4 linked regions of the Homo sapiens genome follow. The protein of the gene in region 2 purifies or fractionates together with the protein of the main gene of each other region. This does not show direct contact. Each region holds a gene or a part of one and is shown on either strand. Other genes may lie near its edges.

Region 1 (3,500 bases), on a different chromosome or scaffold from region 2:
CTTGGTAGCTCTTATCTCAGCAGCTATGTGACTCCGGGGTAGCCACATGTGGCTGTGTGGCTGCCTTCCCCCAGACACTGGTGCTACACGCGTGCTGAATGAATGAATGAATGAGAGTAAGCCATGGGGGACTGCTAAGATTCTCCCCTTCCCTCAGCATTTCAAGAGAGCATACATTGCCCTGCGCTTCACACCCCAGGACCAGCAGAGCCCGGAGGTGGGGATGAATGGGGCAGGGGTTCCAGCTAGTGGAAAGGAGTGCGAGGCCTGAGCAGGCTGCCCCCTGCCCTGTCCCCATCCAGTCACCTCCTGCGTGCAGGACGGTGAGCAGAGAGTTGGCTGAGTACACAGCTGGCAGCAATGCGGAGTGATAGTGAGATAAAGGAGGGCCCTGACCCAGCCACACAGGCTTCTTCAGGAGAGGTCCTCCACGCCGAACCCGGGGATCAGTTGGAGATGAGAGGATAAAGAGAGTGCAGTTGACAGAAGGTGACGGGGATGTGTGTATCCACGACCCGAAAAGGCATGACAGTGAGCAAGCAAAGCAAGTTGATGAAGGATGCAAAGATGATGCTTGCATATATACATTTTTAGAAACATACACAGAGCAATTCCACTTACTCTTCCTGAATGCAGATGTGTCTATGTATTGGAAAGCTTAGGGAACCAGGTGCAGTGGTTCGCACTTGTCCTAGCGCTTTGGGAGGCCAAGGCGGGAGGATGACTTGAGGCCAGGAGTTGAAGACGAGCCTGGGCAACATAGTGAGACCCTATTTCTACCAAAAAAAAAAAAAAATTAGCTGGGCATGGTGGTGCATGCCTCTAGTCTTAGCTACTCAGGAGGCTGAGAGGGGAGGATCCCTGAGTCCAGGAATTCAAGGCTGCAGTGAGCTGTGATTGTGCCACTGCACTCCAGCCTGGGCAACAGAGCAAGACCCTGTCTCTAAATAAATAAAATAAAACAGGCTTAGGAAGAACCAGTAAATCTAAAATTCTGCTACTCCTAAGAAGGGGCCTGAAAGGATAATGAACAATAACATTTCTCTTCCTTTTTAGAAAAATCTGCAGCAAAGATGGTACTGTGAAAACATCAACCAAACCGTGGTGGTGGGGACATGCGTGGCTGATTCTTTTCAGTACTTTTCTGCATGTCTGAGTAGATCACGAGTTTTCCAGTTTAGGTGAAGGGTGGAGTAGAGAAGGCGAGCTGGCGTGGGGCACAGCTGGCGGGGGGCACAGCGTGGGAAGAGCCTGCAGGCAAGCCCTGAGTCCTGGGTCTCAGAGTCCAGTCCATAGCAAAATAAAAGGTCTGGGAGAGGAAGAAGAGGGACCTCAGGAAGCAAAGGGGGCCCAGTCCTGGAAGGCAAGCAGGCAGGTTCTGGATGGGGAGACAAAAATGGAGAGTCTCTGCAAGGAAGTGAGAGGGGAGGGGACCAGAACTGGGAAAGGTATGAACACAGAAAGGCCTTGAGGTTGGGTGCTAGCTTAAAACCATCACCCTAAATTATGATTATTACATTGTCTGAGATAAATTCTACCCTCAGCTCTCGTTCCAAGTGAGGCTCAGAGAGTTTGAGTGACTCGCTCCAGGACTCTCGGCAGATCTTTTTTTTTTTTTTTTTTTTTTTTTTTTTTAAGGTAGAGTTTCACTTTTGTTGCCCAGGCTGGAGTGAAGTGACACAATCTCAGCTCACTGCAACCTCTCTGCCTCCTGGGTTCAAGTGATTCTCCTGCCTCAGCCTCCCAAGTAGCTGGGATTACAGGCGCCCACCACCACGCCTGGCTATATTTTGTATTTTTAGTAGAGACGGGGTTTCACCATGTTGGCCAGGCTGGTCGCAAACACCTGACCTCAGGTGATCCACCTGCCTCGGCTTCCTAAAGTGCTGGGATTACAGGCATGAGCCACTGCTCCCAGCCAAATAGAGTTTCTTATCTGAGATTGAAGCAGGGTTGAAGCCCTGTCTCTTCTTTGTGGTACAAACTTGGAATCCTTTCCCACCCTTCGATGGGAAACAAACCATCGCCATGGCGAAGGCAGAGAATTTGAAACCCTAAAAGGTATCAGCCTGAAATCCTAGCCCAGGCAGTGGGGGCAGCAAAAAATTCTGCAAGTTCTATTTCTCCCACAGCCCTGCGGCCTTGCAGGCTCAGCCAGCAGCTCTGGTGTGTTTTATCTTACAAAGCATGACAAAAACCCTCTGCCTAGGAAAGGATGGGCGGGGCGGCCAGGACACCCTGCCAGCCCTCTCAAAGTGTCTGGGTAAGAACTGCTGAGATGGCCGGGCACAGTGGCCCATGCCTGTAATCCCAACACTCTGGGAGGCCTAAGGTCAGGTGTTGGAGACCAGCCTGGCCAACATGGTGAAACCCTGTCCCTACTAAAAATACAAAATATATTTTGTGTTTGAGCCCAAGAGTTGAAGGCTGCAGTGAGTGAAGTGCAGCAATGCACTTCAGCCTGAATAACAGAGCAAGACTCTGTCTCAAAAAATGAAAAAGGAGGCTGGTGCTCTTTCTCCAGTGGTCCTGAACCCAGAGTGACATCCTGATGCCTTGGGGCACCAAAGTTGGCTTGAGCCCTGTTTATCCCCCGAGTCTAGGAATTCAAAGCTGCAGTGAGCTATGAATCCTCCCACCTCAGCCTCCTGAGCAGCCAGGACTAGAGGCATGCACAACCATGCCCAGCTAATTTTATTTATTTATTTATTTTTGGTAGAAATAGGGTCTTGCTGTGTTGCCCTGTCTTCAAGACCTGCCTTGGTGTTACCTGAAGCAGCTTGAACTTCTGTATGTTTGTAAAAGGAGCCCAAAAGCACTCACCTGACACAGAACCCTAGGCCCCATCAGAGGCCTGGAGGCAGGGCGGCCTTCCCTGGGCAGAAACAGATTAGGCCTTAAAAACAGACCTGGAATTACTACACCAGCAACCTTCTCATCTTAGGATATATTTCCACAGGATTAATAGCTGGGTGTGAGGACATTTACTGTCTAATTAGCACAGGAGTTTCTAGTAGTGAGAGAATCAGTCAATTGACCAATCAATCTGGTATTCATTGGGCACATTCTGTGTACTGCTTTCTCACAGGGCTTCCTTCCTATAGAGATCTAGGATTCTTCGGCATCTTGCTTCTTTTAAACCTTGCTGTGGTTCAGTTCCTTGTTCTCATCCCTGGCTGTACATTAGAATCACCTGAGGAGTTTTGAACAGCATGTCAGAGCCCTTTCCAAGACCAGTTAAGTCAAAATCTCCATGGACATGGGTCCAGACATCATTCTTTTGATGTGCAGCTGTTGGGAACCACATAGTTACATGGATTGCCTCGCTCCCTCTTGTCTTTGAGATATATGGACAGTGCTTTCTCTCTTCAGTATCAGTTGCCTGGTATGTCACTCTCCATTCTTTATTCTCAACCTTCCTGTATCATTTAGTTTCAAGTGTGTGTGTCTTATAAAATGGCATATAGCTTGGGGAAGGTGTGTGTTTTGTAATCTCACCG
Region 2 (4,952 bases):
GGTGTGGTCGCACATGCCTGTAATCCCAGCTACTCGGGAGGGTGAGGCAGGAGAATTGCTTGAACCCAGGAGGTGGAGGTTGCTGTGAGCTGAGATCACGCCATTGCACACTCCAGCCTGGGCGACAGGGCAAGACTCTGACTCAAAAAAAAAAAAAAAAAAAAAAAAAAAGAACATCACTGTAAGTGCTCTCTGGTATTTTAATGTCTGGATGGCCCTGGGTAAGGGAATCATTCCCTCCTGCTGGAGGCGTGGGTTGTTTCAGCCTTTCACTATTATGTATGGTTCTGAGGTGGGCTTCCCCATAGAGAAATCTTGGCAGCAGATTCTTTTTTTTTTTTTTTTTTTTTTGAGATGCAGTCTCACTCTGTTGCCAGGCTGGAGTGCAGTGATCTTGGCTCACTGCAACCTCTGACTCCCTGGTTCAATCGATTCTCCTGCCTCAGCCTCCTGAGTAGCTGGAATTACAGGCACATGCCACCATGCCCAGCTAATTTTTGTATTTTTAGTAGAGATGGGGTTTCACCATGTTGGCCAGGATGGTCTCAATCCCCGACCTCATGATCCACCTGCCTCGGCCTCCCAAAGTGCTGGGATTACAAGCATGAGCCACCATGCCTGGCCAGCAGATTCTTATTTCCTGTGGCTAAAGGTTCATATGCAACATAGGGTGCTTATTGCATTTACCAAATGCTCTGCAGAAAGGTTGGATCTGTACCCCAGCCCGGGTACAGGGCTTCCCAGGCCCTGCCAACTTGCACATTGTTTTCTTTTTGCCTTTACCTCACCGACGCAGGAAAAATGAGCTCTCCCTTGAATCAACATTTCCTCAATTGCCTGTGGGTCTGCATTTTTCATGACTGTGGGCCACTGGTATCCTTGTGAATTGCTTGTTCACACATTAGAACTTGTTGGTTTTTTTTAAACTGAATATTCAGTTTTCATTGATGTGTAAGACCTCTTCATAGATTAAGACTACCGAACCAACCTTTGACCTATGCTTTCCAAATATCCTTTCCCGAATTTTTCACCTGAGTTGGTTGTTTTCCATTATTAGGGAGCCTCAGAAGCTTTTGCTTTCTGCTTTGTATGCAGTCAAATCTGCTGATCTCTCTCTGTCCCTCTTTTTTTTTTTTTTTTTTTTTTTGTTCTGATTTCTGCCTTTGGAGCCGTGTTTAGGTCATAATCAAAGGCCATGCCTCAGTGTCTCAGGGAAGGTATGTTTGCTTTTATTGTCTTCTAACACTTATTTCTTTTTTTAATGCTCCAATCCTCAACATCTAGAGTGTACTTCATGGAGGGATCCAGCTCTGCGTTGTCCCCCGGTCTGGATGACCCCATGTGACCTCTAGAGCATCCAATGGCCTTTGGAGCTGCACCCCACCCCTGTGCTCCCCAATGCTGTGCCAGCTCCTCACTCCAGGGTCCTGCCCAGCCCTGCCCTGCGTGCCCACCCCCCCCCCCCCGCCATGCCTCATACCTGCCTGTCTCCCCAGGCACGTGCGCTAAGCTGCGGCTACCCCCGCAAGCAACCTTCCAAGTCCTTCGTGGCAATGGTGCTTCCGTGGGGACCGTGCTCATGTTCCGCTGCCCCTCCAACCACCAGATGGTGGGGTCTGGGCTCCTCACCTGCACCTGGAAGGGGAGCATCGCTGAGTGGTCTTCAGGGTCCCCAGTGTGCAAACGTAAGGACCCCTCTCTCAGCTCGGTGGCTCTGGGGGTGGGGGATGGCCCCAAATCCTGTCATGGGGATGGTGTGGGTGGGGATGGCGTGGGTGTCTACTCACAAGCAGCTAGGCCAGTGTGTAGGGTCCCATTCCCAACACTGACAGCTTGCTTACATGTCAGCAGCCGGCTGTAGGCCCTCAGCCCTCCCAGTGCCATGTTGGCAGCACGGACCGAAAACCTAGTAGCGGGCCTCCAATCCTGGCTCTGCTACCGACTCAGCCCCTCACCGCCAAGAGGCTGTGCATGCTCTCTGAGCCAGCACGTTTTCATCTGTTAAGCAGGAAACTATGTTTGTTCATTCATTCATTCATTCATTCATTCATTCATGTACAGGTGCACATGGCCAACTTTAATAGGATATTTCACGTATCAGGAATCTTAAGTACTGGCAACACGGAAGGTCATAACGTGCCTGGCCCTGGAGCTCCCAGTCTGTGGGAGGCAATGGTTTTCTGGTTGTATTTCTTGTACAGGTGTTGAAAGGTCCACAAGATAGTCCCTTTTCAGTGCCCAGCATGACATTTCCAAAATGAAGCTATGTGTGTTATGTTCATGTGTTTTGTGCATAAAAAGGGCTCAGAGTCAAAATAGTTTGGCAGATTCTGGGTTTTTATGCTGCAGAACTTCTCAGAGCCTTTAAAATGTTCACGTGCTAGGTGATTCTCTGAGGATGCGAGTGTTAGGATTAGATTCTGAAAGGCAGAAAACCCAAAATACTAGGATTAACTATGATGGAGCTCAACCTTCAGGGTGGGCAGGCAGATCTGTATAGGCTCCATGGCAGTGGGAGCCAGGCCCCTTCCCTGGCATGGCTCTGCTGGGCATGGCCTCAGCCTCATGATTCAAGATGGCAGCAGCTATGTTCCAGGCAGCTGTTATGGGGTGAGGGGCCCTGGGGCCAAAGAGCAGGCCCCAGTGTCTCAGGGAAGGTTCTTAGAAGTTGCCCCACATCACTTCTTATCTTCCACTGGCCAGAACATGGTCCTGTGACCACTGGGAAATGTAGTCTCCATTTTGGGTGGCCAGGATCCACTAGGGAGCATGGGAAATGGGGCAGGGGACAGGGCCATGTTCTCTACGTGGGGGAGTAAACGGTGTTGCTCAAATTAGGATTCCGAGGCCTTTTTTAGCCAGAACATCCAGTAGAATCTGATGGAACTAGTTTTTGGAGCATAGCTGAGGTCACACAGCAGATACATAGTATTTTGGACCTTCCTGGAAAGTGACCTGAGAAGGCATGTAGGCCCCCTGAAGAATGTTGCCACCTTGGGGCATTGTGAAAACCCAGACCATGGGCTGGGCAAGGCCTCCTCAGTACTGTCTATTGTCACCTCCTCTCTGTGGCCCACCCTTCCTTCATTCCTCAGGCAGGACTTCAGTGGGTAGGAGCCAAGGAGGCCATCACTCTGAACTCCCTGCCAGAACTTCTGTAATTGACCACTCTGCAGACTTCTACATACCCTACAAAACCCTGCTCAAATACCCTCTTCAGTTAGCCACTCTGCACACTCCTACACACCCTGGAAAACCCTGCTTAAATACCCCCTTTAAATAGCCACTCTGCATACTCCTACACACCCTGCTCAAATAACCTGCTTCTTGGGGAGAGTCTTCTCTGATAGTCCCACCTCCAAATATAGTTTGCACAGATCTTTGCCTCAGCCCCCAGCACCTCACTGCCCCCTTACCATGCAAACAGGGCTCACTGAGGGCTGCCCAGGCCCTGTCTACACCCAGGCCCTACCCGTACCACCCCTGAGACCCCCAACCCCTGGGCCAAGCAAATCTGGGCAAACCTCGCCCAGGAGCTGGTGGTTGTCTCCCACACAGTGGTGCCACCACACGAGACCTTTGGCTTCAAGGTGGCCGTGATCGCCTCCATTGTGAGCTGTGCCATCATCCTGCTCATGTCCATGGCCTTCCTCACCTGCTGCCTCCTCAAGTGCGTGAAGAAGAGCAAGCGGCGGCGCTCCAACAGGTACGGTGGCCTCATGATCTCAGGGTCCTCCCGGGAGGCGCCTCTTGGCACCATGGGAGGAGGAAAGGACAGAGTGTTTCAAGGGAACCCCGGCACTGCCCTCAGGGCACCCGTTCCTACCACTGCTGCTCTGGGCCTGCGTCTCCCCCCCAAGTGCTGCTCCCGGCCCACGCAGCAGCCAGGGGCAGCATCACAGCTGGGGGACATGTGGGCCCCCAAGGCCCTGCTCTTAGGCCAGGCTATGGGTTCACGGGGGATTATTTTATTTATTTATTTTTTTTGAGACGGAGTCTTGCTCTGTCACCCAGGCGACAGAGTACAGTAGCGTGATCTCAGCTCACTGCAACCTCCGCCTCCTGGGTTAAAGCAATTCTCCTGCCTCAGCCTTCCTAGAAGCTGGGATTATAGGTATGTACCACCACACTCGGCTAATTTTTTGTATTTTTAGTGGAGATGGGGTTTCACCATATTGGCCAGGCTGGTCTCAAACTCCTGACCTCTGGTGATCCGCCCAGTGATCTGCCTCCCAAAGTGCTGGGATTACAGGCGTGAGCCACCGCGCCCGGCCCGTTTTATTCTTAAACCTGCACACATATGCAGTATGTACTCTGCTGTGTTAACGGCCTGCAGGGCTGCCACACACGCCCCCTAAACCTTGAGAGGGAGTCACTGTCACTGCAGATGGAGGGCTGGTTAACCACAGCCCACCAGCGAAGTCCGGCTGTCTGTCAGGTTTTTTCCCCATGGTAATTTATTATTATTTTTTGTTTTTATTTTTTATTGTGGTAAAATATCAATACATAAAACTTAACCTTTTTTTTTTTGAGACGGAGTCTCACTCTGTCGCCCAGGCTGGAGTGCAGTGGCTCCATCTCAGCTCACTGCAAGCTCCACCTCCTGGGATCACGCCATTCTCCTGCCTCAGCCTCCCGAGTAGCTGGGACTACAAGCGCCCGCCACCATGCTCAGCTAATTTTTTTTTGTATTTTTAGTACAGACGGGGTTTCACCGTGTTAGCCAGGATGGTCTCGAGCTCCTGACCTCATGATCCACCTGCCACGGCCTCCCAAAGTGCTGGGATTACAGGCATGAGCCACTGCGCCTGGCCAAAACTTAACCTTTTTAACGTCTACAGTTCAGTAGCATTAAGTATGTTCACGATGTAGTGCAGCCATTAGCACTGTCCAGCCCTAGAACTTTCCACCACCTGTATTTGTAAGTAAAGTTTTATTGGAACACAGCCATG
Region 3 (3,986 bases), on a different chromosome or scaffold from region 2:
ACAGGTCAAGCAACTTCTTTTTCTGCTTAATTTTTAAATGAAAAATTAGAAAGCTGACATTCAAAATGGCCCGTCTGTTTCAATTGCTCTTCTCAGTGTCAGCCTGTTAACTCAATGTGTTAGTCTGTTTTCATGCTGCTGATAAAGACATACCTGAGATTAGGAAGTAAAAGAGGTTTAATTGGACTTAGAGTTCCACGTGATTGGGGAGGCCTCAGAATCACGGTAGGAGGCAAAAGTTATTCTTACATGGTGGCTGCAAGAGAAAATGAGGAAGAAGCAAAAGAAGAAACCCCTAATAAACCCATTGGATCTCCTGAGACTTATTAACTATCATGAGAATAGCACAAGAAAGACCGGCCCCCATGATTCAATTACCTCTACCTGGGTCCCTCCAACAACATGTGGAAATTCTGGTAGATACAATTCAAGTTGAGATTTGGGTGGGAACACAGCCAAACCATATCACTCAGCAAGGCAGATAACTTTCTCACTGAGCCTATGCAACAGAAAACCATCTGGGATGGTTGTAAGGGGCACAGGAAGTGACTGGTAGGATCACTGCCAAAGCTGAGCATTCAGGAGAAGGCAATAGAATCCTATTCTCCATAGTATGCTATAAGATACTGAAGTACACTTCTTCACTATCTCTTTGGACTTAGAATTAGCACTATATTCCTTGTTATACAGAAAAATTACTAAGGAAATTCATAGGATGACAAAAACTTTCAGAACTGAAAAACAGGAAATGTAAGCTTTTTAGTTCTTTGGTATTCGAAGTATGCCTAAAAGACAATGCAAAATCCAAGAAAAGAATGGTGGGGTTTTTGTTTGTTTGTTTTTGTTTTTGTTTTACAGCTGGAGTAGAATACAAAGGGATGGAGTTGAAACAAATGAGAGGAAATTGGAATTCTAAACTTATTCTCATTGGCATTAGAAAGGCACCTACATGTATTTCACATGAGCCGGTGACTGCTGACTTGCATTCTTATTTTTTCCCTATAGATTAAAAAGGAGGTACAATGGTAGAACTGTAATCCTGTCCTTTGTCATAAATTTTCGTATTCATAAAGGTGAGTGTTAGCCCGCTTGTGAAATCTGAAGTTGAGTAACTTCAAATACTAACCACAGAGGGAGAGGCAGCAAGAGGAGAGGCATAAATTCAGGATCTCACCCTTCATTCCACAGACACACATAGCCTCTCTGCCCACCTCTGCTTCCTCTAGGAACACAGGTAAGAGCTTCAAGCCTCTCCAGCTTAATAACATGAATTATTTTTGAGAATAATAATGATACTGTGTTCTATATCATGCATCTCCTGCATTCTGTCTGATTATATTTTACTTATTCTGCCAGAGCAAAATTAAAATACCTATTTCATCTGATTTGTCCTTTATCTAAATTGCTTAGTTCCAAGTAAACCAAGGCACTTTTAGGAACACAGAGGGAGAGTGCCTTGCAGCCAGAGAGTCTTGAAGGAGATGTCAGGGACGCATCTTAACAGCTGGTTGGATGTGATCCACAGAGGTCTCCTGTTAGCATTCATTGTAAAGCCTTCCTACCTAGCCCTAGTGTAGCCAGCAATGAAGGAAAGAGGGTCTATTACTTATTTACAGTAGTCTTTAAAAACACTAATTTTGTGAGGCTTCTAATTAAGACATTAATATATTTAATATATGCACATTGTAGAAAGATTGAAACGTTAAAAATAAGATGAGGAAAACTTTAAATGTCAAAATCTCACAACACAGATATATAATTTCTTTAAGAAAATTGTACTACAAAATACCATTCCATTTATTAAAGTCATTCTGACAGGAATCTGATGCTTTTCCAGGAGTTCCAGATCACATCGAGTTCACCATGAATTCACTCAGTGAAGCCAACACCAAGTTCATGTTCGACCTGTTCCAACAGTTCAGAAAATCAAAAGAGAACAACATCTTCTATTCCCCTATCAGCATCACATCAGCATTAGGGATGGTCCTCTTAGGAGCCAAAGACAACACTGCACAACAGATTAAGAAGGTAGCTATCAGCATCATTATGTTGTCCTGTTGCAGTTTTTCTCTGGTTCCGTCGGCTAGCACGCAGATGGTAATAGATGTGGTGGTCTGATGGGTAGCACAGGGGGCTGAGCAGGAATTCCCGTAACTGTGAGACCACTGACTTAAACAGATCTTTTGAGTAAAGTTTTCTTGTCCCGCTTCATGTCTCTTCCAGGTTCTTCACTTTGATCAAGTCACAGAGAACACCACAGGAAAAGCTGCAACATATCATGTGAGTCACAGAGCACTATGGTTCAGCTTTAGATCCCCGAACAGGTCATAGTTTGAACCTGGAACTTCACAGAAACTAAGAAAAGGCCATTTTTAGGGAAAATCTTGGACACAAAGATTGAGACATACAGAGTGGGTTGGCATTTCATGGCACATAATTATTATTCCTCCTTTCTTCGTTACTGAAAGACAGTCAGCACTGTACCTCAGAGCATAGGTCTGGATCAGGATAGGCTAGGTTCAGACTCCAGCTTTGCTCTTCACAAATGGTGAACATGAGCAGGACACAACTGCTCAGAGTCCCAGTGACCTCATCCCAGAAAACTAAGGGTAATAAGAAATCTGACTCAATACATGCAAATACATGCAAATGTTTACAACATTGCCTTGCCCATAAAATGTCATAATAAATGTTATTATTATTATAAAATAGCTATAATTATACTAATCACAATAATGTTGCAAAATATTTAATTTTCATTGAGTCATTAATGAGATAAAGAGGAATAAGCACAAGTCCAACTATATTTTGGAAAATGATTGCTATGGAATATATTGGTTTAGAGCCTTAATAGTGCAAAATGCTTTGCTGGAAAGTAGAAGTTTCTAGATTTAAACAGGCTTAGGTTCAAAACGTGGCACTTCTAATTTATGTCTCTATGAAGAGGTTTACTTTCCATTCTCTGAGCTTTCTTGTTTTCACCTGAATTGAACTAAAGACTTAAAGTTACCCATGTAAAGTCCTTAGCCATGTACCTGGCACACACTCTTCTTACGTGCAGAGAATGACCATCATGAGGAAACAGTCACAGATCAGTCAATGTGTCCTACAAGATAACAGCACCAACAGGTATAACAGGGCTTCCTGGCATAATCTATTTAAAATATCCAACCTTCAACATACTCATATCCTTGATGACTGTTAGAAGTGAAATATGGTCCTTGCCTTTAAGGAGCTGAGAGTTTAACTGGGAAGCTAAACCTAACCCTTTAAACCAACAAGGACAAAATCCAGTGGTAGACAGTGCTGCATCTATAGTTCAGAAGAGAAAAGATTGCAGTACATTAGAGCAAGAAGAATTTCCTGGAAGAAGTGAAACATAAGGTGGATTTTGAAGGGTATTTGAGGTGAAATACACCAAGTATCAGGGAATAAGCTCAAAGGTCCTCATTGAGACTACCAGCCATTAGGGACTGATCTAACAGACTTAGCATGGGTTTAGTATTTACATTGATACAGCAATTGAATGATCTCCTTTTTTGATGTTTGAAGGTTGATAGGTCAGGAAATGTTCATCACCAGTTTCAAAAGCTTCTGACTGAATTCAACAAATCCACTGATGCATATGAGCTGAAGATCGCCAACAAGCTCTTCGGAGAAAAAACGTATCTATTTTTACAGGTAATTTCACCTGGCCTACCCACATTTCATTTGCATCCTGATGTCTGTGTCTCTGAGTGGCCAAATGGAAGAAAGCAAGGCAGATGAGCCTGACCGATCCAGGTGGAGAGCATTTACTCAGAGTGCAATAGCTCCGTTTCCACAACTCTCCCCCACTGGAGTGTCCCAGACCCTAACAATACATCACTGAAGTGTGGATTTAGGGATAATCTTGTAATAAAAGAGGAGGTTGGGTAATAGAGTGAGTAAGAGTAATAAGTAATAAGATACCATCGATAAACTGGCACTGACTCAGTCACATACGA
Region 4 (4,032 bases), on a different chromosome or scaffold from region 2:
AGCATTGTAATTTGCCCAAAGACACAGCATGAGTACGTGTGGCCTCCAGGATCCACACCCACACCTGCCCAAATCTTATCACCTAAATCTCATCATCACCCAACCCCATTGCCACCCACTGCCTAGCACTGCCTGCCCAAGCAGTCAGTTACTCCACTCACTCACAGCATCCTCTCAGTCAGTGGATAGAAAACCGTAAAAGGCTAACAAAGAACTAAGCACAAATTAAATTATAAATATATTGTAAAATAAATTTGTAAAGTTGAATTAACTTAGTGTTGTAATTCTTAACAAGAATAACAAGAAGCTTTCAGTAGAGGTTAGATATTAATGTTTTCCCCAAAACTTAAAGCACTTTTCGGGGCTGGGCATGGTGGCTCACGCCTGTAATCCCAGCACTTTGGGAGGCTGAGTGAGGTGGATCTCCTGAGGTCAGAAGTTCGAGACCAGCCTGGCCAAAATGGTGAAACCCTGTCTCTACTAAAAATACAAAAATTAGCCAGGTGTCCTGGCGCATGCCTGTAATCCCAGCTACCCAGGAGGCTGAGGCAGGAGAATTTCTGGAACCCGGGAGGCGGAGGCTGCAGTGAGCCAAGATCGCACCACTGCACTCCAGCCTGGGCAATAGAGTGAGACTCTGTCTCAAAACAACAACAACAACAGCAACAAAACCCCAAAAAACAAAAACAAAAAAACCCGCTTTTCTGAAAAAGAAATGTCTATGGATTAGGAAGGTCTGCCTCCCATAGGAAGATGCAGGTATTGCACATAGCCCAAATATTTGATGATTCCAGGACCGGCAGATACACAAGTTATGAAACTGTTTGTACCTTGAAGAATAACGAGAAGAGGAGGAGACCAAGAGGAATAGAAGAAAAAGAATAGAAGGAGGAGGAGGAAGAAGGGAAGGAGGACTAGAAGAAAACTACAATAATAACAACATTGTTGAGACCACAAGATCACGCCACTGGGTTTTGCTTTATATTTTGGAAAACACTGTCACATCCATTTTACTAAAAGCCATGTATCATTATTGTAGTCCCCAGATTGTCAGGGATCCAAATATTACTGCCTTCTTGGTTTCTACAAACAGAGCACAGGCTGGCTGTGTTCCCATTGGTGTACACTATTGTGTCCTGGTCCCATGCCAGGTTGACACATTGCCTCATTCCTGGGAGGGACTAAGGTGCCTCCCTGGGGAATAAATAGAGCAGGGCTGGGTACTCACCTCCACAGCAACTTCCTTGATCCCTGCCACGCACGACTGAACACAGACAGCAGCCGCCTCGCCATGAAGCTGCTGATGGTCCTCATGCTGGCGGCCCTCCTCCTGCACTGCTATGCAGGTGAGTTCTGGGCAGAGAGGGCTGCTTCTGGGCTAGGAATTGTCACCTGGGCCCCTGTAGAAGAACTCCCAACCTCTAATCCCCAGCACAGACGAGCCCCAGTGTGAAGGGCCTGGGTGCGATAGGCCTTAGGATCCCCATGAGTTCCTGACAATCAAGCATGCAGTGTCCTCATGGGCTGTCCCCTGCATTGGAGCTGCACACAGTGTATCATGGCACTCAGCGTCTCACCATGGTCACGGTGACCATAGAAACCAGGATGAGTCTCAGGATTAAATATTGAAATGAACTATTTCAGTGGGGCAAGGGAGAGATGGCATCTACACCTAGAAATCAGGAAATAATCATGGGTCTCCTTGAATATGGAACGAAATAGGAAACCTCCCAGGACAGAAGGCCCAGGCTGCAGAGTGTGACCCAGTGTCTCTCACCCTGTGTGGCTCACTCTGTGTTCTCAGAGTTGATCTGGGTCCTTCTGGGATGCCCTTACCCTCCCAGTTGCTTCAGGCTCAAGGCAGACAGGTGAGAACTCACAACCCCTGGAGTCTCCTTCCAGCACTAAAGATTCAGTGGGAGGAAAAAGCCCCGGCTGCTGGAATCAGCGCTAATATTTCCATAGGTAGCCTGCCTTGTGCAGTTCACAAAGGTGGATTCCAAACCCTACCGTATTGGCATCCAAGGTAGGTGCAGATGTGTAGAAGGGTGACAAGCTCACAGTCAACTAACTGGAAAATCACAAAGTCCAGAGCACAACCAGCTCACATGAAGCCACGTCCTGAGCTCGTTCCTCTCCCTTACAGTGGGAGGTGACCTCAGATCCCCTCATGAACAAGCTCTATTTCACATTCATGTGTGTGTGTGTGTGTGTGTGTGTGTGTGTGTGTGTGTGTGTTTGAGACAGGGTCTTGCTCTGTCACCCAGGCTGGGACTGGGACTGGTGTGCAATGGCACAGTCTCAGCTCACTGCAACCTCTTCCTCGAAGGCTCAAGTAATGCTCCTGCCTCAGCCTCCCGAGTAGCTGGGACTACAGGTGGACACCACTATGCCTGGCTAATTTTTAAATTTTTTGTAGAGATGAGGTCTCCCTGTGTTGTCCAGGCTGGTCTTAAACTCCTGAGCTCAAGCAATTCGCCTGCCTTGGCCTCCCTAAGTGCTGGGATTACAGGCGTGAGCCACCATACCTGGCCACACATTCCCTTTTATTGCAGTAGAGTCAACAGAACTAATGGACAATGTCCTAGACCCATTCATCTGAAATCCTTGGAAACCCTACCTGATGCTGGGCATGATAACAGGGAAGCATTGCATGACTTTGAACCAAGAAAGTCCAAGTAGTGTTTGCTATGTCCCCCCAGTCAGAACACCTCATTTCTCGAGGGTCCTCTTCACCAAGAATACACAGGGTTGGGCTTCTCTGGGTTTGGAAGGTCAGAGAGAATTTGCAGAGCCTGAGTTTACACTCCCAGAATTGAGAACTCTGCATACTGCACCAAAATCTTTCTGAACCTCGGTCTGTCCCTGGAGGTACGAAGATAGCCAGCTTCCCAATTCATCTGTAGAATGAATCACACCTCTAGTAATGGCCCATGTTCTTGTGTCTTTTTTTTTTTTTTTTTTTTTTCCAGATTCTGGCTGCAAACTCCTGGAGGACATGGTTGAAAAGACCATCAATTCCGACATATCTATACCTGAATACAAAGAGCTTCTTCAAGAGTTCATAGACAGTGATGCCGCTGCAGAGGCTATGGGGAAATTCAAGCAGTGTTTCCTCAACCAGTCACATAGAACTCTGAAAAACTTTGGACTGATGATGGTAATTTGGGTTTCTTCTTATGTACCCTTTGAAAATCACTGATCAGAACCAGCGGGCTCTAAATTTGGCACCAAGAATGCCAAGCAACTGGTGAACAAACTTTCTTTATATATCAATTCATTAAACTTTGTCTCCAGGCTGCTTTGCCACTTCACATTGAGAATCTTTAGGGAGTGATAAATGGAAAAGGCAAAAAGGAGAAAAGAAAGCCTTAGAGATCACCCGTCTACCTCTGACCTCACCAGTCCCTTCTCACACAGACACAGACACACATAAGCACACAAGTATAGACACACACAGACACACGGGGACAGGCATCGGCATTTTTTTTTTTTTTTTTGAGACGGAGTTTCGCTCTGTCACTCAGGCTGGAGTGTAGTGGCGTGAATCTCGGCTCACTGCAACCTCCACCTCCCGGGTTCAAGAGATTTGCCTGCCTCCACCTCCCGAGTAGTTGGGATTACAGGTGTGCGCCACCACGCCGGGCTAATTTTTGTATTTTAACTAGAGAAGGAGTTTCACCATGTTGGCCAGGCTGGTCTCAAACTCCTAACCTCAAGTGATCTGCCTCCCTTGGCCTCCCAGAGTTCTGAGATTACAGGTCTGAGCCCCCGCACCCAGCCAGAACATGCACATTTTTATCAAGAGAAAATATCTGGTTCTCAAGAGATCACACACTTGTAGGAGCAATCTACTAAGAAATTTCCTACTTTCACAAAAACAAATATTCAAAACATTCTTATTTTTTTTTATCTAGCTCAGAAAATACAATTTGTGCAAATTCTGCATTTTCTAAAATAAAGAAAAAAATTTTTTTGAGATGGAGTTTCACTCTGTTGCCCAGGCTGGAGTGCAGTGGCATGATCTTCGTT

The links. Proteins that work in one complex are often made in the same cells at the same time.
Region 1: the proteins of SUSD3 (region 2) and PPL purify together in Homo sapiens (affinity purification with mass spectrometry; 3 studies listed by BioGRID and IntAct, with this or other methods). This does not show direct contact.
Region 3: the proteins of SUSD3 (region 2) and SERPINB3 purify together in Homo sapiens (affinity purification with mass spectrometry; 3 studies listed by BioGRID and IntAct, with this or other methods). This does not show direct contact.
Region 4: the proteins of SUSD3 (region 2) and SCGB2A1 purify together in Homo sapiens (affinity purification with mass spectrometry; 3 studies listed by BioGRID and IntAct, with this or other methods). This does not show direct contact.

What each region holds. Positions count from the first base shown.
Region 1 is NC_000016.10:4,927,149-4,930,648, reverse strand, and holds part of PPL (periplakin), read left to right. Parts: intron 1-3,500. UniProt on the Homo sapiens protein: Component of the cornified envelope of keratinocytes. May link the cornified envelope to desmosomes and intermediate filaments. May act as a localization signal in PKB/AKT-mediated signaling.
Region 2 is NC_000009.12:93,074,288-93,079,239, forward strand, and holds part of SUSD3 (sushi domain-containing protein 3), read left to right. Parts: intron 1-1,148; exon of another isoform or gene 1,149-1,195; coding exon of another isoform or gene 1,196-1,217; intron 1,218-1,496; coding exon 1,497-1,685; intron 1,686-3,558; coding exon 3,559-3,706; intron 3,707-4,952. UniProt on the Homo sapiens protein: May play a role in breast tumorigenesis by promoting estrogen-dependent cell proliferation, cell-cell interactions and migration.
Region 3 is NC_000018.10:63,659,094-63,663,079, reverse strand, and holds the start of SERPINB3 (serpin B3), read left to right. Parts: upstream 1-1,186; 5' UTR 1,187-1,234; intron 1,235-1,837; 5' UTR 1,838-1,863; coding exon 1,864-2,028; intron 2,029-2,223; coding exon 2,224-2,280; intron 2,281-3,552; coding exon 3,553-3,681; intron 3,682-3,986. UniProt on the Homo sapiens protein: May act as a papain-like cysteine protease inhibitor to modulate the host immune response against tumor cells. Also functions as an inhibitor of UV-induced apoptosis via suppression of the activity of c-Jun NH(2)-terminal kinase (JNK1).
Region 4 is NC_000011.10:62,207,441-62,211,472, forward strand, and holds the start of SCGB2A1 (mammaglobin-B precursor), read left to right. Parts: upstream 1-1,232; 5' UTR 1,233-1,291; coding exon 1,292-1,346; intron 1,347-2,972; coding exon 2,973-3,160; intron 3,161-4,032. UniProt on the Homo sapiens protein: May bind androgens and other steroids, may also bind estramustine, a chemotherapeutic agent used for prostate cancer. May be under transcriptional regulation of steroid hormones.